Linked DNA regions of Homo sapiens: all the other regions are linked to region 2. Evidence: fine-mapped expression QTL. A gene starts in region 2. Each other region holds a variant in brackets. All regions are shown on one strand. Distances are from middle to middle.

The links. PIP is the estimated chance that this variant, and not a neighbour inherited with it, causes the effect.
Region 1: its variant is fine-mapped to the expression of TMEM37 in whole blood (TOPMed, PIP above 0.99).
Region 3: its variant is fine-mapped to the expression of TMEM37 in lung (TOPMed, PIP 0.99).
Region 4: its variant is fine-mapped to the expression of TMEM37 in whole blood (TOPMed, PIP above 0.99).

Annotation. Positions count from the first base shown.
Region 1 is chr2:119,463,408-119,471,511 of GRCh38, forward strand. SCTR (secretin receptor) reads right to left here. Exons shown (of 13, transcript NM_002980.3): 5 at 2,382-2,479; 6 at 716-848. Among named protein-coding and RNA genes, the nearest start is that of SCTR-AS1, 9.0 kb to the right of the region's middle. The variant G/A (reference allele first, on the strand shown) is at 3,166.
Region 2 is chr2:119,427,561-119,435,664 of GRCh38, forward strand. It overlaps TMEM37 (transmembrane protein 37), which reads left to right and starts at 4,294. Exons shown (of 2, transcript NM_183240.3): 1 at 4,294-4,364. The coding sequence starts at 4,344. RefSeq lists a silencer at 4,066-4,445 and an enhancer at 4,729-5,235.
Region 3 is chr2:119,381,689-119,389,792 of GRCh38, forward strand. No RefSeq gene overlaps it. Among named protein-coding and RNA genes, the nearest start is that of DBI, 19 kb to the left of the region's middle. The variant G/A (reference allele first, on the strand shown) is at 3,547.
Region 4 is chr2:119,475,353-119,483,456 of GRCh38, forward strand. SCTR (secretin receptor) reads right to left here. Exons shown (of 13, transcript NM_002980.3): 3 at 3,459-3,566. SCTR-AS1 (SCTR antisense RNA 1) reads left to right here and starts at 1,102. Exons shown (of 2, transcript NR_147847.1): 1 at 1,102-1,606. RefSeq lists an enhancer at 5,587-6,098. The variant C/T (reference allele first, on the strand shown) is at 4,389.

The DNA.
Region 1 (8,104 bases), 36 kb after region 2:
AGTCATATTGCAACCATGTGGTATAAAGCATGACATCAAAGGCCTACTCTAAGGATGGCAGTGCGGAAACAGGGGAAAAGACTGTGTCCCTCATGGTATCACACAGCCATTGCACCACCTCATCTGTGGACTGCTTACGTAGGAAACAGCCCCCATTTGTTTAAGACCCCAATATATAGTTTTCTGTTATTCGCAGCAAAAGGAATCCCAACTGACACACAGGGTGATTGCAATGAATTGAGTCATCTGGGCATTTGGAAGGAGAAAGGGGGTTAGATTTAAGAAAACACAACGTTTTATTGCAAATACATTTATACAGACATACTGGCCCATGCTCACCCTTTTCTTTTTATGACCAACCCCCACCCTCTCCAGACTGGGTCATCTTTCTTCAGCTGGGAACTGGCAGAAGTAGGGAAAAGAGGAGTCTCCCTATATATCTAATTCCTAGAGTGACCAGTTCACTCCTGGACACTGGGAGTTTACGGCAACCCCCATGAGCTTCTCTCCTACATGACCCAGATTGTGCACATGTGGCTGTGGAATCTCCCTGAACCTCCTGGCCCAGTGTCAGCACTGGCTGCTTTATCCTTGGTATTAAGTGCAGCCTCAGCAGGGGCTTGGGGGAAGGACAACTAGGCTACTCCCCTCTCCAAAGCTAGGCTGGGGAAGGCAGGCGGGCCTGGCGACATCCTGGGGCACCCAGACATATTACCCTGTGGGCATCGCAGTAGGTGACATCATCTGAGGAGAAGAGCACGGCGTCCTTGATGAAGTTGGACAGGGCACGAAGGATGAAGGACACGAACAGGTGCATGTGGATGTAGTTGCGAGTGCAGTGGAGCCTCCTGCAGGGAGAGAATGTAGGGACATAGAGGCCAGAGCCTGAGGGGCTGGGACTCAGCCAGGCCCACCTGCCACCAGTGCACTGGGGAAACTGAGGCCCTAGACTTCAGCTCTTTCCGGGTAACACATTCTGTGAGCATAACCTGAATGAGGAACTGGGTCTCCAGGTGGCCAGTCTAATTTGCTACATGCTGCAGTGAGAAAAAAAAAAAAAAAGGCCAGCCACAGTGTGGCTCACACCTGTAATCCCAGTACTTAGGGAGGCCAAGGCAGGAAGATCACTTGAGGCCATGAGTTCAACATATTGAGACTTCTGTATCTACAAAAAAATTGTTTTTGTTTTTAATTAGCTGGGCATGGTGGTGCCTGCCTGTATTCCTTGTACAAGAGGCTGAAGTGGGAGGATTGCTTGAGCCCAGGAGTTCTACCATTGCCACTGCACTCCAGCCTCAGCAGCAGAGCAAGACTTTGTCTCTAAATGAATAAATAAAAAGCTGGGGCTGTAGGGGCAACATTGTATTCTGCCCTGACCTACCACCATCTCCAGCTCCCAGAATTGTTTTGGGGGAGGGGTGAGGACGGCAACCAGAACGGGAGAGGGCTAGGGGCACAGAAGGAACACAGGCTGCGGGGAGAAAGCAGACCCTGGCTCTGCCACTTAGCAGCTATATGACCTTGAGCAAGACTTTTCACTTCCCGGAGCCTCAGTGTCCTCCTCTGCTGCAGGGGACAGAAGTCAGTTACTTGTTCTGCTTCTTCTGGTACCGGAAACAGGCTTTCTTCTGGGAAACCCATTCCAGCTCTGGATTGGGAGGGCTCCACCCTTCTCACCCTCATGACAGACTTGATCAATCAGAGTGCTCCATCGCTGTCCATAGTGATTGGCTCAGAGTTGGGCATGTGACCTAAGCCCGGCCTATGAGAACTCTGAGGACTTTTACTGGAACCAGAGGGGAAGAGGCTCTTGTTGGCCCTGGTGTTGCTGAGCTAGCAGGATGAATGCCAGCAACTGCTGGTGGTTGTCTCTGCCACTTCTGCAGAAAGCCTCCCAGAGGATGAGGCCAACCCAGAGCAGTGGAATGGAGGGAGACGGACCTAGCTGCTGATGCCACTGAACACCTAGATCCAGCCATGCCTACAGCAGATGCCCATGAACTTGCCACTTACATGGGTCAGGTCGCCTTTGTTTTTCTTATGCTGTTTCGAGGTGGATTTCTGTCTCTTGCAACAGAATCTCGCTAGTACTACTGTAAAATGGGGTTCCTGTTACCTATCTCATAGCATTGTGTGAAAATTAGAATACATATAAAGCGACCGGCCGCAAGTTCTCAGTAGTGCTTAGTAAATGTTGAAAAAATAAAGGGATGAATGAGGTCACAGGAACCTCGATGTTTTGCCATAGGTCAGCTTTAGATCAAGAGACGACAAGGTAGTTCACTCAGACCTTCCTCTTTCTGTCCTGGGTGGTTGAGAAGAGACCCAAAGTCTGTACCTGAGGAGGGCTGGGGTATGGAGAGCTGGCAGTGTGTTCTCACCGGAAAGCACAGAGGATGCCAAGGGCGACCAGGAGCATGACCAGGGAGGAGCTGTAGCCCACGGTGTACATGACTTTCAGCTTCAGCAGGTAGGAGTGCTGCAGAGAGAGGCACGTGTCAGCCCCGCCGGCCCTCCTGGCTAGCTCTGCCTTCTGTGCCTCACTGCATCCGCTTCAGGCAGCTTGAACCCACCGACGCTGCTATTCTGTCCATACCTCAAGGACGCCAATTCACAGACACATAACACCGTAACATCCTGGCATTGGAAAAGCCCTTAGGGATCATCTGATGATCCCTAAGGATCATCCCTAAGTTTGAATTGATGCCAATTCAAACTTCCATCTTATGTATAGGGCCCCTTACCAACTCTCTGAATTCAAACCTTTGCTTGAATACCTCTAGAGACAAAGTGCTCACTGCCCTTTGAGAAAGTTATTTGGTGTAAAATAGCACAAAATATTAGATTTTGTTTATGTGAAGCTAAAATCAATTACTTGCACCACCTATTGGTCCATTTTCTGTCTTCTGGATCCACTTAAAATGGATTTGTCTTTTATATAAGGCAGGTTTTATATAGAAAAGTTACAAAGGTCATACAGGGAGGCCTGCCATTTTTTAATACAGCTATTCTGCCCATCTGTTTCTCTTTCATTTTCTCTATGTCAAATATTCCCTGTGTCAGGTCGGGTGCGTTGGCTCATGCCTGTAATCCCAGCACTTTGGGAGTCTAAGGAGGAAGGATTGCTCGAGCTCAGGAGTTCAAGACCAGCCTGGGCAACATTGC[G/A]AAACACTGTCTCTACAAAAAATTTTAAAATTAGCCAGGCACAATGGTGCACACATGTGGTCACAGCCACTCAGAGGCTGAGGTAGGAGGATCACTCCAGCCTGGGAGGTCAAGGCTGCAGTGAGCTGTGATCCAGCCACTGCACTCCAGCCTGGATGACAGAGTAAGACCCTGTCTCAAATAAATAAATATATACATACATACATACATACATACATACATATTCCCTGTGTCTTTAACCTCTTTCCACAATCCTTCAACCTTTAGTTAAATTAATATGCTCCAGTTTGTTAATGTCCTTCTTAAATAAGACCCCCAGAACCACATAGCTGAAAAGCTCCAGATGCATTCTCTGACCAGGAAGAGGTAGAAGGGATCCATCACCTCCCATCTCCCCTGATCTATACATTGCGCGCCTATGCAGCCAAGCAGGCATTCACTTATTCAGCAGCCACTTCACACTATTGGCTCATCTTTGAGTCAAAAAGATCTAAGTGGAATATTGGTCAGAAAATTAAAAGATCTGGCCAGGCATGGTGGCTCACACCTATAATCCCTGCACTTTAGGAGGCCAAAGTCGGTGGATCACTCGAGGTTAGAGTTCGAGACCAGCCTGGACAACGTGGAGAAACCCTGTCTCTACCAAAAATACAAAAATTAGCCAGGCATGGTGGCGTGCACCTGTAATCCCAGCTACTTGGAAGGCTGAGGCAGGAGGCTCGCTTGAACCCGGGAGGTGGGGGTTGCAGTGAGCTGAGATTGCACCACTGCACTCCAGCCTGGGCTGGAGACCCTGTCTCAAAAAAAAAAAAAAATTGAAAGATCTGCATTTAGGTCCAAAAAATAAAGTATCAAAAAGAATCAAGGGAATAAAAATTAAAAGAATAATTTTTACCAACCAAACTAACAAATATGTAAAAGTAATAATTTCCTCTGCAGGTGAGGGTATAGTGGGACTCAAAACTGGTTCAATCTTTCTGGAAGGTAATATAGAAATATGTATCAAGAACCTTTGAAATATGACCTTTTGACCTCCCTTCTACCTTCAGGAATTGATTCTAAGAAATAATCAGAAATTTAAAAGCATATTTATACATGAAGATGTTTATCACAGAAGTATTAGTGATAAAAAAAACCCAAATGTCCAACAATAGAATAGTTACATCAATTATTTCAAATACAAATTACTTTCATGGTATACCGCTAATAAAATGTTGTTTACCAAGAATTTAAAATGAGTCAGGACATGCTGATATATTATTACATGAAAAAGCAGAATTCAAACTTTACATGTGCAATGTGATTCCAGCTATATGTAAAAACATATTAGGGAATTATATGAAAACTGATTCTGCTGAGAATTTTTAAAATAAATAAATTTTAAAAAGATTTATATGAAATTACCTTTTGTGTAGATCCAAAATGATTGAATATCAACACAAAAAATAAAGAAAACAAAAAAACTGAATATCAGCCATTCCATGTGGTTCAATCTCATACATACAGAGAGACAAGATTGTAAAGAGATATGGCTGATGTTAACAGTGGTTAACTTTGTATTATAGGCTTGCAAATAGAGTTGTTATTTTCTTTTATAATTTTTCTATACTTCTAATTTTTCCACAGTGGATAAGGGCTATTTATAACCAAAAGAAAAGGGTAATTATTTTTTTAAGAAGGCACAAGAATAGAATAGGGGAAACCTGGCTGACAGCTCTTCATGGGAAAGTAACCTTGAGGTTAGAAAGACCCAAGCTCCATGGTGTCACACAGTGTACTGTAGAGAAAGAACACAGGCTTCAGAGCCAGGAGACAAGGGTTCCAAACCCGGACTGTGACTCACCAACTGTGTGACCTTGAGCAAATTATTTAACTTCTTTGAGCCTCAGATTCCTCATCTGCAAAATGGGGATAATAATATCTACCTTGCAGACTTGTTGGAAGAACAAATACAGTGTCAGATAGAGTACCTAGACAATGCCTTGGCATGTAGGAAACACTCAGTGTATGGTAATTTTAATTTTTCCCCATCCCACCATCCTCCTTCAAAATGAGTCAGCGGTTTGAGATGGTAGGAAGTCTGAGCATGAAATGGCTCAAAAATTAGCTTTATTCTCAGTTACACTGATGGAGTGCTGTGGGCAGCTGGCCACGTGGGAATGTTTGGAGAGGCTAGGCATGTTATTTTAAGAGTCACATTAATAAACTGAAGCATTTCCAGAGGAGGGTGATTGTGTCATCTGTAGAGTACATGAAAAAACTGGGTCCATGACACCTGGAGGGGAAAAACACACACTTAGAGGAGAAAAGTGTTAGACTGAACAACATGTAGAAGAAGGGCCAGACCTCATGTGTGAGCTCCAGTTGGGGGAAGTTTCCAGAAAGGAGGTAGATTTTGACTCGGGGTGACTGATCATTTTCTGACAGCAGGAGGTGGCCTTCGATAGGAAGGCTACCATGTGACATTGAGTTCCCCACTGATGTAACTGCTCTCCTGAGAGCCAGGAGTCACCTCTCAGGGATGTGAGGAAGACCCTTGAAGGGCAGTGGGTTGCCTTGAATTAATGGTTCCTAGGCTTTGGGACATCAAAGACCTGTGAAATGTCAAAAAATTGAGGACCAATATGTTAACATATAATCTCGCCATGTACAGATGAGCCGCATTGCAGAGGGTGTCAGCCTCACTCCTGGGGATACCTGGACCAGCCTGCAAGAGCCTGAAGAGGCACAGGGTGACAAGGGGGGTGTCATGCAGAAGATTCTGCACTGTCCCGTGGCTGTGGCCATTGCTTGCCAGGTGACCAGCCCGCTTCTCATGTAGACCCGTTCTTGCCTTGTAAGGTAGGAACCATAAGACCTCACCCACCCAGAAACAGCCTTGCTCCCTGAAGGTTTCATGTGACCTTCGGTCCTTAGCTTTTTTTTTGTTGGTTTTTGAGACAGGGTCTCACTCTGTCATCCAGGCTGGAGTACAGTAGCACGATCATGGCTCACTACAGCCTCAACCTCCCAGGCTCAAGCAATCTTCCTGCCTTAACCTCCGAGTAGCTAAGACTACAGGCAAGTGCCATCACACTCAGCTACTTAAAAAAATTTTTTTTGTAGAGATAGGGTCTCCCTATGTGGCCCAGACTGGTCTTGAGCTCAGGAGTTCAAGTGATTCTCCCAGCCCAGCCTCCCAAAGTGCTGAGACTACAGGCATGAGCCACCACACCCAGCCAGTCCTCAGCTCTTAACATCTAAAAGTGTGCACCACTCCTGGAGGACATGGGGCCCAGAAGCCTCACTGTTGTCTGTCCTGAATTCAGTTGCCTCTCTTACTGCTGTATGTTCTGACTGTACCACCTGCTTTCTGTAGCCTTTAGATCATCTGTCACAGACATTTTTTGTTAAGGGACAGAGAGTAAATATTTTGGGCTCTGAGTGCCCTGTGGTCTCTTTTGCAAATACTCAACTCTGCCCTTGTCATGTAAACGTAGCCTTACTGTGGTAGGAATGGGCTTGGCTGTGTTCCAATAAAACTTTATTTACAAAAGCAGGCAGTGGAGCCTCATTGGGTCCAAGAGCTACAGTTTGCAAATCCCATTTTATTTACCCATGTGACATCTATGTGCGGTCTTACTGCCAATCTGAGTCCACTATTGGTGTCAGTAATATTGTGTGTCAATAATATAGTGGTGTATACCAAGTAAGGATGTCACAAAAAGAAAAGAAGAAAAAAAGAAAAGCAACTAATACATACCTTCACCCTCAGTTGATAAAAAGACATTTTAATAATAAGAAATAGGATGGTTTAAATCTCAGAATAAAGAACAAAACTCGTGCCAATTTGTGGACTGGCATTTAGGGACCGGTGAATCACGTGGTCAGGAAACCCTTCCAATCTCAGAGCTGTTGTTTTGTTTTGTTTTTTTAATGCAAGCTGAAGCCAAGCTAGGTCTCCTTTCCACCATTTTTGGACAATCATTTTTCTGAGTTAAGTCCAAAGCGTTACATTTTCCTTTATGAAATTTCAGCTCCTTGGTTTGGGGATTTTACAGTTTTAATCTTGGCATGAACGTTGTGGTTAAGGCCCTGGGCTCCATTATTCGTACTGATTAGTGTAAACCAACAGTTCTCATTGTGTGGATGTTTTTTCCTATTTTGGGGGCAGAGTCTCGCTCTGTCGCCCAGGCTGGAGCGCAGTGGCGAGATCTTGGCTCACTGCAACCTCTACCTCCCAAGTTCAAGCGACTCTTGTGCCTCAGCCTCCCAAGTAGCTGGGATTACAGGCACACGTCACCATGCCCGGCTAATTTTTGTATTTTTAGTAGAGACAGAGTTTCGCCATGTTGGCCAAGCTGGTCTCAAACCCTTGACCTCAAGTGATCCACCCGTCTCGACCTCCCAAAGTGGTGGGATTACAGGCATGAGCCACTGTGCCTGGCCTGTGGCTGCAATTTCTGATGGCAGTCATCTTACAATGCCAGCCTAAGGAAGAAGCCACCAGGACAGCAGGGAGAGAGATGCAAATGACACAGACCCTGGTGATTCTGTGGTGCTGCCTCATCAAAGAATCCTGAAGCCCATTCTCTGCATTTCCAGTTACGCAAGCCACATGTGCTTATTAAACCAGTTAGAAATGTGTGTTATTTGCAGTACAAAGCCTTCTTATGAACCTCATCCGGCCACCCATCATGATATTATTCCTTTTTAGTTTTATGGATTTTACAAATTTGAAACAAATAAGCCCCCTCTCTTCATATAAGTCGATGATAGAACTGTTCCTCTGCAGAAGGCAGAGCCCACTCACCATCCCTCCAAGACCACGAGTGCTCACTCCTTGTCGAATCTCCTTATTAAATCATCCCACTCTGACCAGATCTGAAGACCTCGTGTATGTTCCCAATGGGATGACAAGCCCTGGGAAGGAAAGAACTGCTTCCTCTCCCTTGGAGCT
Region 2 (8,104 bases):
CCTCTCAACACCAGGAGGGAGATGCTTCCCATTTGACAGAAAAGTGAGGAGCACAGAGGGGAAGTATTTGCTCAGAATGCATTAGAAGCCTGGTTCTTCTGTAAGCAAACCTTATTGACCAACCTGTATTTAGGGACTGGGCATGGAGTGGTGAAAGAGGGAAAAAGTCCCAGCTCTCATGGAGCCCATGATATTTTAGAGAGGGAAAGGGACAATCCAGGAAATAGACAAATAGCCACTTTCAGCTAGTGATCAAGAATTTACAAAGGTAAAAGAGTGGCAAGTGGGGGGTGGAGTGTTACTCTGGCTGGGAAAGTCAGGAGATGCCCCTGAAAAGGCCCTGCAGACACCCAGGGGAAGGTCTTGGCAGGAAGGTCGGGGGCTGGGGGGCCAGGAACCAAAGCTTCCTGAGCCTTGGAAAAGAGGGATGGGAAGATGCTTGAAGGGACAGAGGAAGTGAGAGTGAAGGCTGTTCCACAGGCATCCAGGCTAGAGAGGAGGGGATCTGGGGTGGGCTGAAGCCGGGCAGGCACTGGAGGGGCAGAGAGGAGAGGATGGAGTATATGGAGGGCGTGAGGGCAAAGAGAGCAGGAGGATGTGGAGCCTGAACTACCGAGGCCTGGGAGAGAGCAGAAATGGAGAGGTAGGTTTGGACTCTAAAACTCAAGCACTTTACCATTGACAGGGACTTTGTCTTTTTCTTCTTTGTCCCTCATTGGTCAGGACAGTTGTGACTACATAGTAGGTATTCAATCACTTCATTCATTTAGTCAATGAATATTTATTGAGAACCTACTACATGCCTGGCTCTGTCGTAGGCACCAGCGATACACTGGTGAACAGGACAATGCCCTTGGCCTCTTGGAGCTTACATTAAAAGGGGGAGAGAGGACAAGTAAATATGTGTATGTGGGCAGAAGAGAAAAGAGAATGGAGGGGCTGTTTTAGATGTGGGGGTCGTCGTAGGCCTCTCTGATAAGGTGACATCTGAGCCCAGACTTTAAAGAAGTGAGCTGGTGAGTCTTAAATGGGAGTATCTGGAGGAAGAACATTTCAGGCAGAAGAAGCAGCAAGTACAAAGGCCCCGAGATGAAAGAGTGTTTGCTGACTGAACAACAGATCTAGTGCTTGTTGACTGAATGATCAGGAATTGTGTCCCTACCAATACACTTGAAACTCTCTAAGGAACATGCCTGGATCTTCCTCATCAGGCAAGAGTGGTCAGAGGGGTGGGAAGGAGCCACTTCCTGCCTTTCTTTAAGCCATTCCTCTTTCCCCAGCCCTGGCCAGGCCTAGAAGCAGGGGTCAGGGAGGGTCAAGTGCCGAGTCTGTCACAATCTGGACAAAGGGCAGAGAAAGTCAAAGAATAGGCAGGCTCCATGCTGTCCCACAGCCCAGTACTCATGCCCATGCTGTTTCTGCTTTTAACACCTGGGGGTCCACCCGGTAATCCAACCCCCACCTCTGCCCCTGCCATGTTTCCCCTCACACTAAAACTCCCTGCTTCTCTGGACATTCTTCTCCTGGTGCGGTATTTGTCTCTGCAGGGTTTAAGGGAAAGCTTCTTCACCCTCTGAAGTTTCAATGAAAAATAAACTCACAAAAGGCACATTAAATGGAGAAAAGGTATATACATTAATTCAAGGTGTACACCCCGGGAGAATCACGGAGTATGCCCACCCCTCAGCAGTGCTCAGAAGCTTCTATACTATCCTGGCAGAACAGGTGATGGGAGAGGAGAGAAGACGAATTCTGTAGAGGGGCTAGCCGAATGGATCAGGGAATAGAGATTAACTTGCCGGGTGTGGTCACATTCTCAGTCCTACAGGGAGGAGAAGAAACACAATTGTTCCTTTTGGTGGGTCTGGATGTTAGGCAGATAAAGGAACTTCAGTTTCATCCTGTGTTTTGGGAGAGACGGTGAGGGGAGGGAAGGTCAGAGAGACCTTGAGGCTTTTTCAGTTGTGTATGTCAAAGCGCCATGCTTTGGGACTTCTGACCCCAATACCTCTGGCTATCTCACCAGGATTTGAGAGGGCTGTGGATGCTGCCACTCCCCGCACCACCCCAACCCCCTAAGCCAGAGAGGTACCAGGAGACTCCAGGTCTTAGAGTCTCAGCTCAGATTCCACCCAAATTCTGGCCATATTCCCAGTCCTCATGTGAGCATAAGATGATCAGAACTGGATAGTCACTTCCTCCTTATTATTCTTAAGTCATTTCTGCTTCTCCAACTATCTTGCTGACAAGACATGTTGCTCTAAATTCTACTGATTCAATACTTTTCTATTCTTACCAACAAAGCGTAACAGGCTGTGAGAAACATGCCTGACCACACACGAAACTGGAGAAGGCAGTGGGTGCAGATGACCCGACCTGACTGTTCTTCTGATTTTAATTCCAGGCACTTCCCTCTTGGCCAGGTGAGATGCTATGATCCAGAATCTCACCTGGGAGAGCCCACAGGGCATTCTTAGGGCTCAGTGAAAGGATACCCCCGCAACAGGACAGGTCTTCCTTTCCCATGTGGGCTCTTTATCCAGAACCCAGAGCTGCGGAGAGTCTGGCTTCTGGGACCCTTGACTGGGGAGAAAGCAGGTGGGGGCCACGGAGGGAAGGCCCCAGAGCAGAGAGGCACCAGGCTGGCTGAGCCTGGGCAGCTGCCCTTTGCCTTAGCTCAGTGGTTCTCAAAGCCTGGCCCCCAGGCCAGCAGCACCAACATCACTTGAGGCCACTCAGCCAGAAACTCTGCAGTGGGGCCTCGCAATCTGTTTTAACAAACCTTCCAGGTGACTCTGGTGCAGAATGGTGGCAAGAACTCAAACCTGGACTAGGCCTGCTGGGTAAGTGGAGTCCCAGCTCTCCAGTGGACTCAATGTGGGTGGCCTGGGCCAAGCCTTCCTGTGCCTGGGCCATTTCTCCGTTTGTCAAGCTCCAGGACTGGGGTAAAGGATTTGACAAGGTCTGTTGGGCAGGGATGGAATCAGATGAATATCTAAGTGGAAGATATACAGACAATTGTAACTACCCCTCTTTCTCACATGGCTCTAAAGGGGAAAACAGATGAGTGCAGTTGCTTTGTCTTTGGGTAAAGTCACCAGGAGCTGCCTGCCTGAGTGAACCAGACAATTTAATGTGTGCCATTTAGTGAGGGGCCTTGTTTTACCACCACATTTGAGGATGGGGGGAGGGAAGCCTTTCTGTTGGAATTTGTGGCCCTTGGACACTCCTCCCACCTCCACCCTTTTTGGCGGTAAAAGCTTTTAGGTGCTGCCTCTTTAAGAACTCAGATCCGGCCGGATGCGGTGGCTCATGCCTGTAATCCTAGCACTTTGGAAGGCCGAGATCGGTGGATCACCTGAGGTCAGGAGTTCGAGACCAGCCTGACCAAAATGGTGAAACCCCCGTCTCTGCTAAAAAATACAAAAATTAGCAGGGCTTGATGGGGCGCGCTTGTAATCCCAGCTACTCGGGAGGCTGAGGCAGGAGAATCGCTTGAACGGGTTTGAACCCAGGAGGCGAAGGTTGCAGTGAGCCGTGATCGCGTCATTGCACTCCAGCCTGGGCCACAAGCGCTAGACAACGTCCAGAAAAAAAAAAAGAGAGACCTCAGTTCCCATCGAGGTGGAGAAAAAATAACCACATTTGTTTGGCATATTTGCATTTTTAATAGTCCCTGAGGAGTTCAGGAGGAAACAGGGTTTTACATCCCCTTTTAGGGACGCAAGTAGGATTGCCCCAAAAAGTTCCACTCCGTTCACACTCAGCGAGGGCCCGGCAAGAGCCCCACCTTTCACATTCATTATTTCCCTTACTAACCGAGGCTCCGAGACGCTAAACAAGCAGCCCAAGGTCACACCGCAGAGTGAGGGCAGCAGAGCCTCTGCGCCTGCCTCCTCCCTTCGGACCCTGCCGCGTTCCCAGAGGCTGGACTCAGCAAGCTGGAACAGGAATCGAACCCTCAGGCCCTCGTCGCCGTCCCAGCCCTCGAGGAATCTGCGCCCCAGGCGAAGCTGTCCTCGGAGGTTCGGGAGCGTCGGAGTGACTTCCCGATCCTTTCCCCTGGGACCCGAGGGATCCCTCCCCCCAAGTGCCGGGTCCTCCCCGCGGCTCCCCAGGGGCTCCTCCGGCCGCCCTCGCTGACTCAGCGTAATCCGAGCCGCGGAGGGCGGCGGGGTTGGCGGAGCCCGCCCGGGGTTAATCGCCGAGCTTTGAACGCCCCCTCCCGCCCCGCCCGCCTCCAGCAGCCGCCCCGCCCCTGCGGAGAAGTCCCGGGCTGGCGCCGGCGGCCACAGCGGAGCAGCTGGAGCGATCGAGGCTGCAGCGCGGCCGCCGGGCGCAGCATGACTGCCGTCGGCGTGCAGGTAGCCGGCGCCTGGCGGGGCGCTGACCCGGGGTGCTGCCCCGCCGTGGGAGGTTGGGGGTGGGAGGACGGAGGGAGGGGCGTACCCACCGCGAGCGCCGGCGTCGGGCTGGGGGTGCGAGCGCCCCCCGTGCCCGCCCCCTGTTGCAAACCTGGGTCCGGAGGAGGCTGGGCGGGGAGCAACCTCGGGGGGCCTGCCTGCCTCACATAGCTGCTCCCGAGGCGCGGACTCCGGCTGCTTCTGCTCGCGGCCTTGCAAGCACCCGAGGCTCCCAAACTTCATTTGGAAAGATTTTTCTTCTCTTTGGTGTCACCAGTGACTTACTGGTCAGTTTACCATAAGGGTCCCCCTTTGTGAGAAATGAGGCGCGTCTGGGGTGGAGGGACAGAATCGACTTGCAAAGTGAGGCTTATGTAACAGAGGATGCGTCTCTTGGGAAGTTAGACCTTTCTGGGGGTGGAGGTTAGGAAGACCGTCTCCCTCCCCAAAGCTGCGTTTGGGGTGCTGGGCTGGGGGTGGACTTGCTGAGTCGCGCGGACACCTCAGGGAAAGGCTCTGGCGAGGGAAGAAGCCCGTGTCTCCGAAGATTTGGCTTCTCCTTAGCGTAGTGCACGATGTTTATGTTGGCTAAGAACCTACACATTCCTACCCGCTCCCTCGGGCCTGCTGCTCCCCAAAGGGAAGTCAGTGGGTGGCGGTACCGCTGCCCAGCGGGCGAACTTCCTTTCCGCGCAACTCGCCCGCTGCAGAGTCTATCCGCTGGACTGTCTCCAGGATTAGAGAGGCCCGTTGACTTCGTGTACAAACGCTCAGCCACAACACTGACCTAGTAGACACCGTTCTGCCCATTGTATAGATGAGGTAACCGAGACTCAGAAGTAAGGTGCCCTCCGTGGCTGGCCAAGGAACAGAATCAAGATTCAAACCCAGGGCTTTCTGGCTCCAAATCCCACTGGCTCCTCCTGCCTTTACCTAACGGGAGAAACCCCACCCACAGGACACCCCCAAAACCGCTTCTATAGCCAGGACCTAGGCACCTGGGCGAAGCCGGGCATGGGGCGCAGGGAATTCCTCCCCTTTGTTCTGGGGGATGTCTGGAATCCCGGCCAGGCAGCATGGTGGGACAGACCAGGTGCGGTCCCTCCCCTCTAGGAGCTTACAGCCCATGTAGGGAGAGAGACTTGGAAACAGGGCATGGGGGAGCGAATGCTAAATTAAGAGGTGCAAAAGTTGCCAGACGGGGAAGAGGAGGAAGCCTGGTAGCAAGGTGGGAGCTCAGCTGGGGAGGCCACAGGCTCCAGGTGAAGGGCGGGTGCTCCGGCCGCTTCGGGATGATAACTCTTCATCCCCACAACCATGACTTGCCAGGGGGCAAACACAGGTAGGAAGCAAGTTCTGGGTCATGCAGGCAGCGGTGGGCCAGGCTGCAGCTGAGAGGAGCAGAGGCAGGCCGGCTCATCAGGAGGCTGTGAACTTCCAGGATGTTGACGATGGTGATGGCCTCACCTGGGTAGGGGCAGAGTGGGTGATGAGGGGGAGCAAATATGGGAGACATGTTGGGGATGTGCGGAATGAGTTGGGAGGAGCTTAATTTGTCTACCTGGGGGTGCTTTGGTTAAGGGGAACACATGAGGCCCTGGGTTATAGGAGGAAGACCATGACATTGGACTCAGTAGCCCAGTAGTGTCAAGTGACCCTATTCTATAGGTCACTAGAAATCATGCAAGGTTACAGATGAAAAAGGAAAATGCTTACATTTTTAGCAGAGCAGTTAAGCTCCAGAGAGATTTAAGTGATTGCCTAAAGGTACCCTGCAGGGGTCCTCTAGGTCAGGGGCAGGACTTGACCTCCCCGCTCCCTTCTTTTCCACTGCACACTTGTCCAGCTGCCCTCCAGTAGCCGTTTCAGGCCCTGCATCACTGAAAGCTGGTGGAGATGCCGGGTGGTTAGGAATGAAGACTCTATATGTGTTATTATTGTTATTAATATTAATAGCTACCATGAGTTGGGAGCGGCCCGTGTACCATGCATCTTTATATACAGGATCTCATTTGATTCCTGGGAGTTTCAGTGGTGGCCAGAGAGTTTAAATGAAGCCCTACTTTGGGGCAGGAGCGGGAGGAAACTAGATGAGGTCAGCTGTCTCCACTTTCTGATCCTGACGTGACATCTAAGGGCCTGGAGATTAAAGTCCAGTCTGCCTAGGACAGGTAGGGCTGGAGAAGGGACAGGACGTGCCTGTTTTCCAGCCAGCATGCTGTCTCGGGTTAAAAGGTTTCTGGGTCCTGTGATTTGTTCTCTGCCTGTGGTGCTCCTCCTTTTTAGGACCATTTATCATTCTCTAGGGACCTTGTAACCTTGCCAGGTGCCTTCATGGCTACGACTTTCCTGCAAGTGTCATTAACTTCATTTTCTAGATGAGGAAACAAGGGCTCAGGAAGTTAAGAAACTGCCCAAGGACAAACACCTCTAATGGTTTGTGGAGTAGACACAGGTTTTCAAAGTTTCCTTTGGTTTCTTTCTTACCGGTAGATTTTTTTTTTTTTTGTAATAAAATGCAATACAGACTCCTGGACCCCCAATGTCCCAAGCAGGTACAGGGCTCAGTTGAAGTGAGGAAGGGGATGCAGAGCCAGCCTGCTCAGCTTCCCTGCCCACCCGGCTTCAGCACTGGAAGCCCCACCAGGAGCATGGGGACACAGTTTGAGAACCACAGCCCATACTCTTAGCTCCATGTTTTTGACCGCACCCAGGCTGCCTTCATCTCAGCTAGGACCCAGGCTGGTCCTAGCTCTGGCATGGCCCTTGAGGCATCCCTCTGCACGCACCTTTTCCTCACCAAGAGGGCATGGGGCACAGGGAATTCCTCCCCTTTGTTCTGGGACATGTCTGGAATCCTGGCCAGGCAGCGTGCTGGGACAGACCAAGTGCGGTCCCTCCCATCCAGGAGCTTACAGCCCATGTAGGGAGGGCTGTAAGGGCTCAGTACTGAGCCCCTAGCACAAAGGCCCTGTCCTTAGAAGGCCCTAGTCAGTATTTATTCGCTGAACGGATTCCACCTCCTGCATATCATACAATTGTCTGGGCAGCCATAAAGAGCTTCATTGTGCTTTAGGTGAGTGATCTCAGGCAAGTCACCTGCCCTCTGCATAGTTTCCTTCTCTGTACACCCACCATGGAGCTTCCTACTTTATCAACCTCATAGGTTTAAGAATAAAATAGGATCCTACTTAAGGCAGAGGTGCTGAAAGCAAACTGCATCCTTATTCCTGTATCCCTGGGGTTGAAATTAGCGGTAGCTCCTGTGTCTGGGGCATGTGAGCAGATACTCTTGCTGGGCTCTTTGACCACAGGAGTCTCCCAGAAGCAGGGCTTTATTTTATGTCTCACACAGAGAGGAGTGGCCCAGACCTGCCTCAGGAAGCCTCCATTTGCCCATGGCATAGGACACACCCCATGTTCCTCACTGCTCCATTCTCCTGGGTCCTAGCAGTGACCGTCATGCGTGCCTGTTTTGCATACCTCCCAAACCGAGGTGTAACCTGGGCAGCTTCTAGACACACTGCAAAGCAGGTCATTTAATGTATGACTGTGCAGGAGACTCAGTTTAAAGGAGCTTCAGACGGAAGTGACAGTGGTTGCCAATGACCTTTGACTTATCTCACAGCTCTCCCTTGAGCACCCACTGAATGCCCAGGTATTGGGGACACAGCAGTGCCTAAACACAGAATGTGGTGGTG
Region 3 (8,104 bases), 46 kb before region 2:
AACACAAAACAAAGGATCAGCAACGTTTTAAGCAAAAAGTCAAAAAGATTAGTTCAGTCCAGGCAGTTAACTCCTGTTCTGTTTGATATTCATGAACATTTTAGCTCTCCATGAGTCCTGAAAGTTTTTCCTCTATTCTGATGCCACAATCTCCAAAGTTATCGAAACCTGCATTCAAGAGCACCTGTTAGAGTTTTATAGCTGATTATAAAATCATCTTCTAAAGAGGACCAAAACAAGACAACAATTGTCCATGGGTGAGAAAAAGTTTTAGGGCAGCCATAGTCAAAGACACAATTGACAAGGAAATTTGTTACCTCTGTCTCACACAATAATTTTAACGTTACAATTATGATTATTACTGATAATGTACACTAAGTCACATAAGAATTACAGAAGTTTCCCATAATTTTGGAGCACATACCAATAACATTTATACAAATACAGTCCAAAGAAAACCAGACACCATTTTATATTTGACAATACTTCCTGTGTAATTTTTGTTCCAAATAAGCCAAATTATGTCATTTTTGAAGTCACTTTTGAAGTCACTTGTTCCCCATAATTTGGAACCTTCCTTTGGATATGATCAAGTCAGATATAGAGTTGGTCAAACCCAATGGGAAAAAGACTGAAACAACAACAAAAACAGAAACAAACAACAACAACAAAAAGTTAAGCAAAACAAACAATTGTACAACTTAGGTGATTACTGAGCACTCTAATGGTAAGGAGAAACTAAGACCAGCTGGTTGTTAACTTTAGCCAAGACAAAATCCCAAATCAGCTACTTACTTAGGGATGGGTCTCATGCTGAAGACTGCTCTCTCCTATCCTAAAAGCAGGGAGGATGGAAACAGAAAGATAAAAGGATCTCAATTCCGGGTGGCTCTGAAGAAGTGTTGAATTATCCCTAGGCTACTTACCTCAAAATTTATTCCGTAAGATAATAGATCCTTGTGTGTTTAAACCACTTTTTTCAGGAGACCGCTACACGCAGACAAATGCAATTCCTAGGTAATAAAGTTACTGTAGTTAGTCAGGGCTGTGCCCATATTAGGTAAGTATGGTAAAGTCCTAGGGTATGGGACCCAGGATTCTGGAACAGAAACTATTGCATTTATAGTTATGTGACAGTCTCAAAAATTTGGTGCTCCAGAAGTAGAAAATGAAAAGGACACAAATTTAAGGGGCTCTTTGAGATGGAGTGTCGCTCTGTCGCCCAGGCTGGAGTGCAGTGGTGAGATCTGGGCACACTGCAACCTCCGCCTCCCGGGTTCAAGCAATTCTCCTGCCTCAGCCTCCTGAGTAGCTGGGATTACAGGCGCGTACCTCCACACCTGGCTAATTTTTATATTTAGTAGAGACGGGGTTTCATCATGTTGGTCACGCTAGTCTTGTAATCCTGACCTCGTGATCCACCCTCCTCAGCCTCCCAAAGTGCTGGGATTACAGGCATGAGCTACCGTGCCTGGCCTAAAAGTTTCTTACATTTGGGTTGTGAGCCTGTATTCCGTATTTGTTACATTAGTCTCTGCACTTTTCAGTATTTTTAAAAATAGTGGGCATGGGATGTAGTGGGAAGAAAATCACTGTAGCACTCCTCCAGGTCAAGTGGGCATGAAGAGACATCCCTACAAAACTTCCTCACTGATGAGGGAAGTGGATTGGCTTAGCTCACTGTGGTAAATTGGATGATTGTTCCCAACCCCTGGCACCCTCCGTAAAGGATTATCTGTCTGTGCCCTTCACTGTTCCAACCTGAAGTGTGCCCACCAGAAGTGAACTGCTCGTCCCCACCCATTCACTCGAGCTTGGTCATAGGACTTGCTTTGCACAACGGCATGTGATCAGACATGATCCAGGAAAGAGCTTTATATGAGCTTGTGTGGCTTAGCCGGCCCTCTTGAACTTCTGCCATCTGCCATGGGAAGAAGATGCCAAGGAGCCACTGTTGCCAGGTACATGAGAGATAAGCAAGGCCTACCTGAAGCTAACCACAGCCTTGAGCAAGTCCAACTGATCCCAGATAAGCCTGGCAGAGCCACCATCAACTGAAGGCCTGTGAGCTAGAAATTAACAAATAAATCTTGTAAGCCACTGAGTCTTAGGGGTTGTTGATCATGCAGCATTATTGCAGCAGATGTTTATAATGAACATCTGATGTTTTTGTCTGTCTGGCATCCTTCTCTCAGCCTACTAAGAACAGTTCCTCTCTCTTTGCAGCAACTGCCAAAAGGTGCTTCTGGCAGGCTGCCAGCCACAGTACCTCATCCCAGAAGTGGATGTATCAGGAGTCCATTCAAGACAGCAGGAAGGGAGAAGAAAGGATAAAAGGGTACCCTTCCTTTTTAAAGATTTGTGGTTAGCAGAATAATGATCTACCCAGAGAGGTTCGTGTCTGAATCCCCCAGAACCTGTGAATAGATTAGGTTGCATGGAAAGGAGAAGTAGGGTTGCTAATCTGCTGATTTTAAGGTGGGGAGATGCCTGGATTATCCAGATGGACCCGGTGTAATCACAAGGGTCCTTAAGTGTGGAAGAGATAGGCAGAACAGGCAATGTCAGGATGGTGCGATGTAAGAACAACTCAGTCAGCCATCACTGACTTTGAAGATGGAAGAAGACACTAACCAAGGCACGTGGCAGCCTCTAGAATCTAGAAAAGGTGAGGAAACAGATTCTCCCCTACAGCCTCCAGAAGGAACAGCCCCCCAGACACCTTGATTGTAGCCTGGTGAGACCCATATCAAACTTCTGACCTCCAGAACTGTAAGTCAATAAATTTATGTTGTTTTAAGCTACTGCATTTGTGGTGATCTGTTACAATAATAGGAGCTGATACAGGATCTTTCTGTAAAGGACCACACACCTGTCATTGGCCAGAATTTAACCACCTAGCCATCCCTAGCTACAAGAGAGATGGGCACATTGCCAACATGAATAAAATCAGGAGAATTTATGTCATTACCAGGGGAAGGAGGAAATGTATGTTGGAGTGAACAAATGGCAGCCTCAGTCACAGAATCCCATTCCTCTGGCCACAGTGACGTTCCAAAGATGGGCATAGGAGTCAACAACACACTAGCTGTCCTCTGAGATCGTATTTGGACGTTAGAAGAAAAATCTCTTTCTCATGGAGATGCTAAGCCTGGAGCTTACTCTAGCCACTCCCTCCACCCTGCCACCCACCAGGAGAGAATGAGTTCAACAAAAAAGAGAGGAAGAGCTAAGAGATGGACATTGTTCTAGTTCTCTATTTTTGTGTAACAAGTCACCTCAGAAATTAAATTAGTGGCTTAAAATAACAACAATCACTTTATTATTATTGTTTTCATGGCTCTGGGGTTAGTTGGGCTCACCTGGGTGGGTCTTGTTCAGGATGGCTCCCAAGGCTGCACCTGATGGTGGAGGCTGGAGTCCCACAGAGCTTCCTCACTCATGTGTCTGGTAGATGATTGATGCTGGCGATTGGCCAGACGCCTACACCTGGCTCCCCATGTGGCTTGGGCTTCCTCAGAGCATGGTGGCCGAGTTCCCAAAGTC[G/A]GTGTCCCCAGAGAGTGGGCAGAATTTGTGTCACCTGGTATAACCTAGCCTCATAAATCACACAGCATCCCTTCTGCCATAGTCATAAGCCCACCCAAATTCAAGGAGAAGGAACATAAACCCCATCTCTTCATGGGAGGAAAGTCAAAGTCATATTGTAGGAAAGGCCCATGGGATGGGAGATTGTTGCAGCCATTTTTGGAAAATATAAGCTGCAAGAGATTCCATATTATCACATGAAGCTTCAATCAAACTGTCCTTTCCAATGTAACTCTTTTTTGTGTATGCTGGTACGAGAGAGGTTTCTGTCATTTTCTGGCTACAACAACATTATACACACGTCCCACAAGACTCCATAAGTGGTAGTTCCCTTTCCCCTGTTCCTTCTTTTCCAGTGGCCCTTCACTTTCCCTGTGGATGGTGGAAATTTGTCACTAAAGCTGTCTGTGTTGCAAGAGAGCATAGCAGCAACCTTTGCCACTATGGACGGTTATGAAACTTTTTCAACATACATAAAAGTTGAAATAATTTTACAGCAAACTCCTGTGTATTCACTACACAGATTTTCTTTACTTTAGTTGCATTATCTTTTTTTTCTTTTAAAAAAAAACATTTTGTAGGAATGGGGTTTTTCTGTTTTGTCTACACAGTTCATAGCCCTGCCTTACAACTACACTTTCGGGAAGTTTTATAATGCATCTGCCCCAGCCGAATGCAGGCAGAGCCCTGCTCTTCAGCAGTAGGCTTTGTTCCGCCTACCCACAGACTCAACATTTCCATCAGTACGAATCTAAACTGGAACCTGCACTGTCTTTACAGTATAAGCAAAAAATTTGCAAATTTTGCCATATTCTTGGACAGACTGTAAAAAAGATTTTTAAAAAAAGAAAAGAAGGCAAGGAGCAGTGGCTCACGCCTATAATCCCAGCACTTTGGGAGGCTGAGGCAGGCAGATCACCTGAGGTCGGGAGTTCGAGAAACTTTAGTAGAGACGAGCTCGTCTCTACCAAAAATACAAGCATGCCTGTAATCCCAGCTACTCGGGAGGCTGAGGCAGGAGAATCACTTGAACCCCAGAGGCGGAGGTTGCAGTGAGCCGAGATGGCACCATTGCACTACAGCCTGGGCAAAAAGCAAAACTCCATCTCAAAAAAAAAAAAAGAAAAGAAAGAAAAGAAAAAAGATTTGCAAATTGATTTTTCATCTCTTTCTTTCTTTTTAATTTTAATATAGCAAGCTTATCCTTAAGCAAATTGATTTTTAAGAGATATTAAACAAGCCTTGGCAATATTGCCTTCTCAATCCCCAGAGAGAAATCTTCACATCCCATCTCCAAACTGCTGCATTTTAAGAAATATTTTTCCAAATATGAAAAACAATATGCATGCATTGCAGAAAACTTAGAAAATATTGAAAACTATAAAAAGAGAACAAATAATCTCTCATAATCATTTAGCACATAATGGGAATCATACTGTGTATAAAGTTCTAAACCTGATTTTTCTCCCCTAAAGTATATCATGAAAAATGTCTGCATAATATTTGCATCGCATTGTTAAACTATAATTTAATTAGTACACTATAAGCAATACCCTATTTTTCCTGTTATTATAATAATTTGTTAAACTTTTTTTTTTTTTTTTTTTTGAGACGGAGTCTCGCCCTGTCGCCCAGGCTGGAGTGCAGTGGAGCGATCTCGGCTCACTGGCTCACTGCAAGCTCCGCCTCCCGGGTTCACACCATTCTCCTGCCTCAGCCTCCCAAGTAGCTGGGACTACAGGTGCCCGTCACCACGCCCGGCTAATTTCTTTTTGTATTTTTAGTAGAGACAGGGTTTCACCGTGTTAGCCAGGATGGTCTCGATCTCCTGACTTTGTGATCTGCCCGCCTCGGCCTCCCAAAGTGCTGGGATTCCTCGCCCAGCCTGTTAAATATCTTTATACATGGATCTTTGAAAACATTTTTTTTGCCCCTAGAATAGATATACTCTTGGATATAACTTATTGAGTAAAAATGTATGATCTTTTATACATATTGTTAAATTATTTTTGTAAAAACCTGTTACTAGTAATGTATAAAAGTGCCCTCTCACCAACTTCTTGCTAGCACTGAATATTATTATTTTAAACATTGTTGTTTTTATAATTCAGCCGGTAAGTTGTAGCTTGCAGTTTCAGGCTCCCTTGAAAGTGAAAAAGGTTTGATGGCTGCCTTCTCCAGGATTCTCTTTAGCGGCCTCTGCTGCTTCAGAGGCAGTCTTTCTCTCTCTATCGCTCTCTCTCTCTCCCTTGGGGCCATCTTGCATAATTTCTGGTTTCCTCCTTCCTGTTGTATTTTGGAGTTCTTCCCACAGACTTTTTCTTTTTCAGTCCCAGCTCTCCACTTCAAAGTCTACTTCTGCCAGGGTGCAGCAGGTCAGATGTTTTCCATTAACTAAGGTAGTATATGTTAAATGGTTAACCCAGAACCCTCTGGAGTCAGCAGAGGTGTTGAGTGGAGCTGTGCCTGCCAGGAAATGCCCCCTTATCCTCATTTCTGCCCATTGGGCAGAGCAGCATTTTCCGCTTGGCAGAGCAGGCCTGATGCAGCGCTCAGAGGGAACCAAGCCAGTGCTGGCATTGCTGCCAATAGCTACTGAGGAAGCAATCTCCTTAACGATACATGTGATCAAGACTCAAAAGCTTAAAAGAGAACCTGTAGATCTTGCGTGGGCAGAGGCCATGAGTCATCTAGAAATGGTGTTTGGGGCTGTGAGCAGATGACACCATTTCCAGTGGAGACAGTCACGGGACAGACTGCAGGACAGAACTGGGACCTGGGATCTGCAGAAGCCACATGATGGAGTGATAAGACCACCTGGCCTGGGCCAGGACGCAGACCATTCTTTTAGCCACACCAAACTTTAAAGGACTTTCCATTTGTTATTTCTCTCCATTTTATTATGAAAATAAGTTGAAAGAATTTTCCAGCAAACACCCATGTGTCCACTACATAGATTTTCTCACAGCATTTTACACGAATTGCTTTTTTTTTTTTTTTTTTAACATTTTGTAGAGATGGGGTTTTGCTATTTTGCCCAGGTTGGTCTCAAATCCTGGGCCTCAGGCAATCCTCCTGCCTCGGCCTCCCAAAGTGCTGGGATTACAAGCATGAGTCACTGCACCGGGCTGCATTATCATATATTAATCCACCTATCCATCATCCCTCTATCTCTCAAGCAATCTAAATTATTTTTTCTGTGAATATCAAAATAAGTTGCCGATGTCAGTATGCTTCCCCAAAAAACTGAATCATGTATATTATTAATCAAAGTTCAGTATTTATTTACAGTCCATTATTTCCTTAGGGAAAGATTTATATACCACAGATTGCATGCAAAAACGTGTACTGTGTGATGTTTTAACAAATGCATATACTTGTACAACCCAGATCCCTATCGAAATATAGAACATTACATCCAGAAATTTCCTTCATGCCCCTTCCCAGTCAATATCTGTCATCATGGTCCTAGAGGCAAATTCTGCTCTGGCTTTTTCTACCGCAGATTAGTTTTGCCTGTTCTACAACTTCCTATAGATGAAATTATATATTTGTATTTTTGTGTGTGAGACTTCTTTTACTCCATCTAAGGACACTTTACTATGTAGGAGGAAACTGGCAAACTATAGGGCCTGCCAGGATCCTGTTTTTTGTTTAGGAACAGAGAAAACCTTTTTTCCTAAATCGAATTTTAAGTGACAGTAAGAAACACCATTAAGGGGGCAAAGGTTTCCTATCTCATTCTATGGAGCCAGCACTGCCCTAACACCAAAACCAAACAAAGACATTACAAGAAAAGAAAACTGCAGACCAGTATCTTTTATGAGCATAGATGCAAAATCCTCAACAAAATATTAGCAAATTGAATCCAACAGTTTGATAGAAAAGTGTAACTGACTTTGGGAGGCTGAGGCAGGCAGATCACTTGAGCTCAGGAGTTTGAGACCAGTCTGGGCAACATGGCAAAACCCCACCTCTACTAAAAATACAAAAATTAGCTGGGTATAGCGGTGCACTCCTCTAATCTCAGCTACTGGGGAGGCTTAGGTGGATGGATTGCTTGAGCCTGGGGAGGTTGAGGCTGCGGTGAACCGAGATCATGCCACTGCACTCCAGCCTGGGCAACAGAGCGAGACACTGTCTCAAACAAAACAAAACAAAAAAAAACAAAAGAAAGAAAAGTGTAATCACCCAACAGGTTCTCCTTGCCCACTGCCTAGAGAGAGCTGATTTATCAAGACAGGGGAATTGCAATAGTTTAATTCTCACAGAGCCAGCTGTATGGGTGACTGCAGTTTTATTATTATTCGAATCAGTCTCCCAGAAAGCTAGGGGATCAGGGTTTTTAAGGATAATTTGGTGGGCAGGGGGTCAGAACATGGGAGCACTGACAGGTTGAGTTGGAGATGAAATCATAGGGAGCTGTGCTCTTGTGCTGAGTCAGTTCCTGGATGGGGGCCACAAGACCAGATGAGCCAGTTTCTCGATCTGGGTGGTGCCAGCTGATCCATTGAGTGCA
Region 4 (8,104 bases), 48 kb after region 2:
GGGCAGCAGGCCTGCCCGTTTGGGGCCCTCTCCTCACTGACACAGCAGGACTCCCAAGACAGATGCTGCATGTGACCCAGGCCAGGTGCCCAGAGCTGCTAACAAGGCAGGGCCCCCTGCCTTCCACTCTGTAGAGCTGCAAAGCAGCTGCCTCCCCACTTCCCCAGGGCTGAATTCCTAATAGGTAAGGGAAACTTAACCAGGCACAGGCCAGTGTGCACCTCAGGGGACCCCTGAAAGGATGTTTGTGCATATATATATATATATAGATGTAGATATTTATATTATATATATAATATAAATAGATATTTATATTTATATTTGTATTATATTATAAATATAAAATAAATATATATATTATGTGCATATATATAAATATATAGATATATAGATATATATTTATGCAGTTCGGGGAAAGACTAGTCCAAAGCTTTCATCTGATTTTCAGAAGGCTCCGGGACCCTAATCAGGTTGGGAAGCATGACCGCTTTAAGGCCAGATCCTCACTAAGTAGGAAGAGAAAGAGGGCCAAGGGGATGCCGCTGGGGAATTGTGTTTTTTAATAAGGAACTCTGGAAGACCAGCGTCCTTTTCAGAATCAAAGGAATACACCCTAGAGGGAGCATTCTAGGCCTGGCATGAACAGAAACATCTGGGGGCAGAATCGGCCTGCGGTTTCTCCAGTCACATGGACCCCACCCCTCCTGTCAGGACCCATGTAGTAGGTGCCCTCAAGGAGAATTAATTTATTTTCCAGAGCACCTTGTCCTCACTGGGCGCTCCCCCTGGGGTTAGGGTTGGGGGCACCACCTAGGGAAGCCTGCCTTCCTGCCGGGAGATGAAGGGGCAGGAGTCTAATCAGACCCAGAAGTAGATCTATGGGGATGAAGGAGGGGTGGGTGGGAGTTCTTGATGATAAATTGAGGCCAGACAGCTGTTGACCTGTGCTCTTGGGCCACCCACCCCCAGGCTGGGTATGAACAACGTGGCCCCCACCACCCTGGAGGGAGCCCAGAGCCCAATAGGCAGGCCTTTGGTGTGGCCCTGCAGGCCCACAGCGACACCATGTGGCGGCGAGAAGAAACTGCAGCAGAGTCGGCACAGGACCCCAGCTTCCATCCTCACGTTGTGTGGACATGGTCCAGCTTCCTGCCGCGGACCATGAGCAATCCAAGGGTAGGGGAGCCTCAAGAGGGAGACACTGAGCCTTTACGTAATGAGGCAGGGAGGGGTTCAAGCAATTAATTGAGAAAGGATGTGACAGGACTGGCACCTGGTCACTTTGTGGCCGTGAGCACCAGCTCCGCCTATCCCCTCTGCAGGGCAGAAGGGACAGTGCTGCGGGAGGCGGAGGTGCTGTGGCTCTGGGAAGGCTGAAAAGGGACGGCTGCAAAGGAGAAGAGCTTCGAGTCCTTTCCATCAGGAGAAAAACCCGGTCAGCTGTGGAGGAGCACTGCACAGGAGTCAGAAAGTGGAGTCTGGGCGTGACCTTGCACCTGACCAGCCTGGGGCTCTAGGTCCGCCACATCTGGACTAATCTCCTGTGTCCTGAGCTCCCAGGACCCCAGAGGCAAGCATGGAGGGGCCACGCTGGCAGGTAAAGTTGGTAAGCTTGCGGGGGTGTGTGTGGCAGGGGTAGGGGAGGGAAGGTGGGAAGGAGAAAAAGGAAAAGAAGGGAGAGGAGTAGGGGAGAAGGGACAAAATTTATTTCCAAGCACAGCCTTACAGGGCAGGTCTTATTTATTTTCCCCATTTTACAGTCAAGAAAATTGAGGCTCCCCAGCAGTGAGCAACTTGGATCCCGGGGCTGACTGGCACCCAGCTAAAAGACATTTCCCCAGGTCCCTTGCAGTTAGATGTTGCCATGTGACTGAGTTCTAGCCGAGGGAATGTGGGCAGAGTGGGATCCTTCCCAGGCCCGCCCCTTATGAACCTCTGCTGTGTGGTCCTCCGAGTTCTTTCCTCTCCGCCAGTCAGCCTGGAAACTATGTGATGCCACGGTTGTGAGGTGTGGGGTGCTGGGGTCACCGTGTAGAGGAGAGCTGCCTGCTAATCAGGAATACCTGTTTCCTGTTCTGGACGTTTTTTGTTTGTTTGTTTGTTTGTTTGTTTGTTTGTGACAGAGTCTCACTCTGTCGCCCAGGCTGGGGTGCAGTGGCACGAGCTCAGCTAACTGCAACCTCAGCCTCCCAGGTTCAAGTGATTCTCGTGCCTCGGCCTCCTGAGTAGCTGGGATTACAGGTGTGCACCACCACGCCTAGCTAATTTTTGTACTTTTAGAAGAGATGGGGTTTCACCATGTTGGCCAGGCTGGTCTCGAACTCCCGACCTCAGGAGATCCGCCCACCTCGGCCTCCCAAAGTACTGGGATTACAGGTGTGAGCCACCGCACCCAGCCTGTTTTGGACTTTCTGTGGACAAATTTGCATGAAGGCTTTGAGATGTGGGGCATTGTCTGTTACAGCAGCTAGCATTACCAAGCCAGGAATTGGAGGAGCGGGTTTCAAGCCTGTCTACCTCATTTCCCCCAGTTCCCATAGTGTAGGGTGTTGAGTGAGGCTTCGAGGGAGCAGCATGTTCCCCAAATATGTGTGTGTGTGCACACATGTGCGTATGTACAGCAGAATTATGGTGAGAAGAATCTCCACTCCCTTCCCACAGTCTCTGAACCGTGGTCATCTTTGCCTTGCCTGACTTTGAAAGGCTGGTGGGTTTTAGTGTTAAATCACCTATTCTTGTTCAGGCTTCATCTGGCAGCTTTGCTGTCCTGCATGGACCAGGAAAGAGGGGCAGCTGCACAGCTTTTCTCAGTCCCTGTTATTATTACTCTTTACTGGATCAAGGGAAAAGTCCTGTGATCTGCAGGGGGTTTATGATGAATAAATGAGCCCGTATGTACATATAAAAATGTCCAGTGCATGGTCGACTTCTAATCAATGTGAGTCAACTAGGAAAATTCTTAAATCCGCAGCTGTCTTCTGGTAAGACAACCCCTCGCCCCAGGAGGCCAGGGGCTCCCAGGGAGCCAATTTCTCAGCAGGGCCTGACAGTGGAAGGAAGTATTTTGGAAGGCCAGGCCATTAGGGAGCCTGCCACTACCAGGAGGGGTTCCAGACATGGGGACTGGAACAAGGCCCCTGGTTGCTAAGGGGGCAGAAACATGGAAGGAAGGAAGAGAGCTCCTAGCTGAAGGGCCTGGGGAAGACAGAAGCAGGCCCAGCCTCCCTTATCGCCTTCCCCAGTGCACTGCCTCCTGCCCCCTTGCTTGACACCCTCAGAATTTGAGTCCACCCCACATTCCCAAGCAAGGCTTCTAATCCTTTGCAGTGATCTCCCCCATCATTGTACCCATACTTGTCCTCAGAGAAGGTTCCTTGGCCTCCTGCCTCTAAGCTGAGGCCCCACCCAGAGGGACACCCCTCAGCCTGTCCGCCAGGCCCCATGGGCCGAGTGGTTACCATTTCTGCTGGTGAGCATCCGGAGGAATCTCGGGCATTCCACCTCCACCATCCGGCCCGGCACAGAAGAGGGCCAGCAGCTTATGTTGTCCCACATCCCCTCACAACCTGCCAAGAAAAGCAGCATCAGACAAGGATGGGGGATGGACCGAGGGCTGCCCTACCATCCTGTCCACATCACCGACACCCTTGCCTGCCTGGAATTCCCACTAGACTACTTTCAAAGCTCTCATTAGGTGCTGACTCCTCAGGATCAGGAACCTATCCTGTCTAATGCACCCTTGGACTCTGCCATGTACACGGTAGTGCTCAGTGTTGAAGATAGAAGGAAGTAAGAAAGGGAGGGAGGAAGGGAAGAAGGAAAGAAGGAAGGCGCCCTCTCCTATAAGCTTTGCAAGTAAAGGTCTGGATTTCTCTGGAGCAGATGGCACATCTGTTGGCCAATCAGTTTGCATTAAACAACTAAGCAGCAATGGGTCTCCCTTCTAGCTTCATGGTACGACTACCTGGGGAGCTTTAGAAATAGACCTAGCCGGCGTGGCACACAGGGATCCTGCATGAATTGGTTTGGGTGGGCCCAGGCATCATGTCCTTTGAAAGCCTTACAGGTAATTCTAACGTTTGACTGCAGGGTTGAGAACTCTTGTCCCATGATTCTCAAACTTCAGCTTGCATCAGAGTCACCCAGAGGGATTATTAAAACACAGATTGCTCAGTAAGTCTGGGGTGGGGCCTGAGTATCTGCATTTCTAACAAGTTCCCAAGTGATGCTGATGCTGTTTGTCCTGGGACCACACTCAGAGCCACTGCCCTGGCCTATGGACACAGCTCCACAAGTGTCACCACTGTATTTGCTGCAAGAATATTATTGAGGATGTTGCTTTCTACATCACTTGAGTTCCCTTGATGAGGCCCCTCTGGAAGGAGAAC[C/T]AGGTCTCAATGCAGTGAGAAGCTGAACTTATTGTGAACGACTAGTATACATAGACACTACATTTGAAGCTGGTTTCCTCTTTGATTTGGCTGCTAGGAAGCTCAGAGCCAGATGCGTGGCCCACTTCTGAAAACTGAAAGATTTTAAGATGAATAAAAAAAATTACTAGGTGTTTTCAATGCAAAACTAGGCATTGTCTAAGCACAGCCTTCTGGATTATCTGATTCAATGGGGTGTCAGGTCTTTTATTGTCTTCGAGCTACACTGCAACTCTGTAAGTTCTAGATGATTGGTAGCAATGCAAATGATTCTCGTCCATAGGCACAATAATTATTGTCCAGTTGAAATACAATTAATTTCACTTCCCTCCCTGTGTATTCAGTCAGCTTTGCATCTATTTGTAAATTCATGTTATCATTCTGCCTTATAGGTATGGTACTGTATTAGTCTGTTTTCATGCTGCTGATAAAGACATACCTGAGACTGGGTAATTATGAAGGAAAGAGGTTTAACGGACTCACAGTTTCACATAGCTGAGAGGTCTCACAATCATGGTGGAAGACGAAGAAAGAGCAAAGGGACTTCTTACATGGCGGTGGGCAGGAGGACACATGCAGGGAAACTCCCGTTTATGAAACCACCAGATCTCATGAGACTTATTCACTATCACGAGAACAGCATGGGAGAAACCTGCCCCCACAATTCTATTACCTTCCACCAGGTCCCTCCCATGACACATGGGAATTCTGAGAGCTACAATTCAAGATGAGATTTGAGTGGGGACATAGCCAAACCATATCAGTTACTTTGAATGCTATGAACCAGTGATAAGATCTTACTGAGTCCCTCACAAATTAAACAAGCTGTTCGGCAGGTATTCATTTTATATTTGTGTGTGAGCTGTGACTGTACTGTCTTTTAAGACATCATTTCACATAACAACTCACCAATTCTCCCAAAGTTGATCCAAGGGCAGCCACACAGGGAAACTGCTTCCTGCAACAGACTTCTGGAACCCGTGCCCTCTGAGAGGTCATCGCTGGGGTCAGGCTTGGAAGGGGCTAGAAATGAGCTGAGGGACACCCATGAGGCGAGCCGCAGTCAGCGCTCCTCCCGTTTGGGGAACATGGTGCAGGGCAGAGCCCAAAAAGAAAGAGCCAGGACTCAAGTCGGCCGACCCGGCCTCCAGGCCTCCCCCACCTTGCCAGCTGCCCTGCTCACTTGCTTATCTCTTGTGGGAGGACCGGCACCTCCCTCCTGAGGCTATCCAGAGGAAGAGCTCAAAGCCCAACTGAAAAGCCTGCCCAGAGCAGGCACTGGGACTGGCAACCCCTTTCCCGCTGGCCTCCCCAGGCCTGTTCCTTTTTCATCTGGATTCAGGAGGTTGGACTAGGCTGGGTCCCCTGAATGGCAATTCTTAGCTCTGGGGACTGGGCGATGGATGCGGTGTGCAGACATTGCGGGAGTACCCAGATGGCAAATGCTCAGCTTTTTTAAGGAGCAAGAACCTGTTTTTAGGCATCAATCTGACCAGACCCAAAGCATCCATAGTGTCCTTGACCCCTTCATCCCCTCTAAGTGAAATCTCCCTGGTGACCTGTCCCATTGCAGAAGTGTGACCCTCCAGCCTACATCAGAATGAGCTGGGTGCCTGTCAGAGATATGCAGATCTCTAGGCCCCAGATCCTCCTTGTGAGACCAGACCCAGGAATCTGCATTTTAAGAATTCCCCAAAAATGCCGCTGAAGTGGTTCCAGGGCTTGCTTTGAGAATTTCCACTCTGAGTCTCCCTGCTCCTCACAGCTGAGGGTTCCTCATTTCTAGGCTTAGCCCTACCCCTGGCTCCCAGGAGCAATTCACAGAGAGTGAGACAGGCAGTCACAGACCCACCAGTGGGGGTCACTACCAGCTGTGTCTTCACCTTGGTACCTGGGTACAGATGCCTCCCCCACCACCAGGCAGAGAGCCCAGGAGAGCACGCCCCTGTGCCTACGATGGGCCAGGCATAGCACAAGTGCTCAGCAAACACAGCAGATGAACAAATGAAGGGACGCCAGCTGGAACCACTGCCTCCCACACCAGTCCCGCCAGGCATCCCTCATAAACGGGCTTTCACCTTGACACCCAGTTGACTTCTACATTCTGCATCCAGGGCCTGCCAGCTCTGGTGCTGTGCTGATGGGGAGGAGCCCTGTGCGTCCCACACTTGAGCTCCTGTAATCCCATGGCGGTGCCCCCAGTTCCCGATGTGCCTGGCTCTACCCCCACTTTATAAACGCAGCAATCAAGCAGAGCCAGAAGTGGCTTCCCAGGCCACACAGCCAGGACATGGAGGGGATGAAAGCTGTCTCCACCCAGCCCTCCACCCACCTGACCAGTCTCCAGGTGACACCGGCCCCAGCTGCCAAGTGCCCTCCTTGTTCAAGCCAGGCTCTGGGAACTGGAGAGGGACAGAAGGGGTAGGGAACGGTAGGGTGGGCCGGGCCAGGGCCTGGGTTAGGGGGGATGCTGGCCTAGAGCGGGGCAGGTGTGGCCTGTTTCTCCCTGAAGAGAGGCCCAGCCCCTAGCAGGAGAGGGGAAGTGGGAGGGCCCAGAGAGGAACCCAGTCCTGAAATCAGGACGCCTGTGGGGGCTTTGGAGGCGGGGCAGTCCCAGGAGCCACAAGGGCAGGCTGCAACCATGAGCAAGGGTGTCGTAGAATTGTAGAGGGACACAGAAGGCAGTGTGTGGGCGGAGCTTTCACAGGACAGTGGAAGCATCTATGAGGCCAAGGGGCAGGGGTCTGTGTCCTTGGAGGCATATGGGAGATGAGGAACTCCTTGGATGTTCCAGAAGCTTCACCTGCAAGAGGAGGAGCCGGAGCTTCTCTCTGCTGTGCACTCCCCAGGGACGGCTCCGCCACTATCCCGAGGCTGCCCGTCTACATTCCAGCTGTGGACGCTGCTGGCTGGGCCTGAGCAGGGTCTCGGGAACTCAGCAGGCCTGCCGGGTAACCCTGGGCCTACCCAGATGCCTGTGGGATGGGGACTTGGTCCTGAGGACCCTTTACGGACAGCCCACTCTGTGTCTCCGTGCTGACCTAGCCTGGCACCTGGAGTCTCAGGAGGCCAAGGGTGACCCAGAGCCCTCTTTCCCTGTGCGGCCGTCTCAGGGTTGCAGCAGGATGCCTCGTTTCAAGTTGCAGCTCCCCTGCCAGCTCGGGTCAGCCTCTCTTGCATTGGAAGCAGCTGGGGCATTTCCAGAGCATGGAAAAAGGCAGGAGCCTTTTGCCTCACTTGTGGAAAAACAGATTCAGTGCTGGCTGGACTGGCCAGGTCAGCCAGGGTACCAGCCGCAGGCTCCAGGCCATGAGGCTGGACAATGCCTGGCTGGTTGGCCAGACAGATGTGGACGGTGCCAGCACGTCTGAGAGGCTTCCTAACTTGGGTCACGTCAGGCAGGGCCCCCAGGGATGCCTGGGGACAGGCCATGCCAGGCCTGTGCTGGATGCACATCAGACATCCTGGAGCTGAGGTTGACAGCAGCTCAAGGGTGAGTAGGGTCACTGCCCCACGGCGGAGATGAGGAAGCTGAGGTTCCAAGAGGGGGAAGTGAGAAGTGTGGGTGACAGAGCTGGTGATAATGGAGCTGGGATCCCACTCAGCCTTCCCATCTCCCCAGCCTGGGACAGGCTGCCTCCTCCAGGCTGGCCTTGGTGGCAGCAGACCTGGCTGCT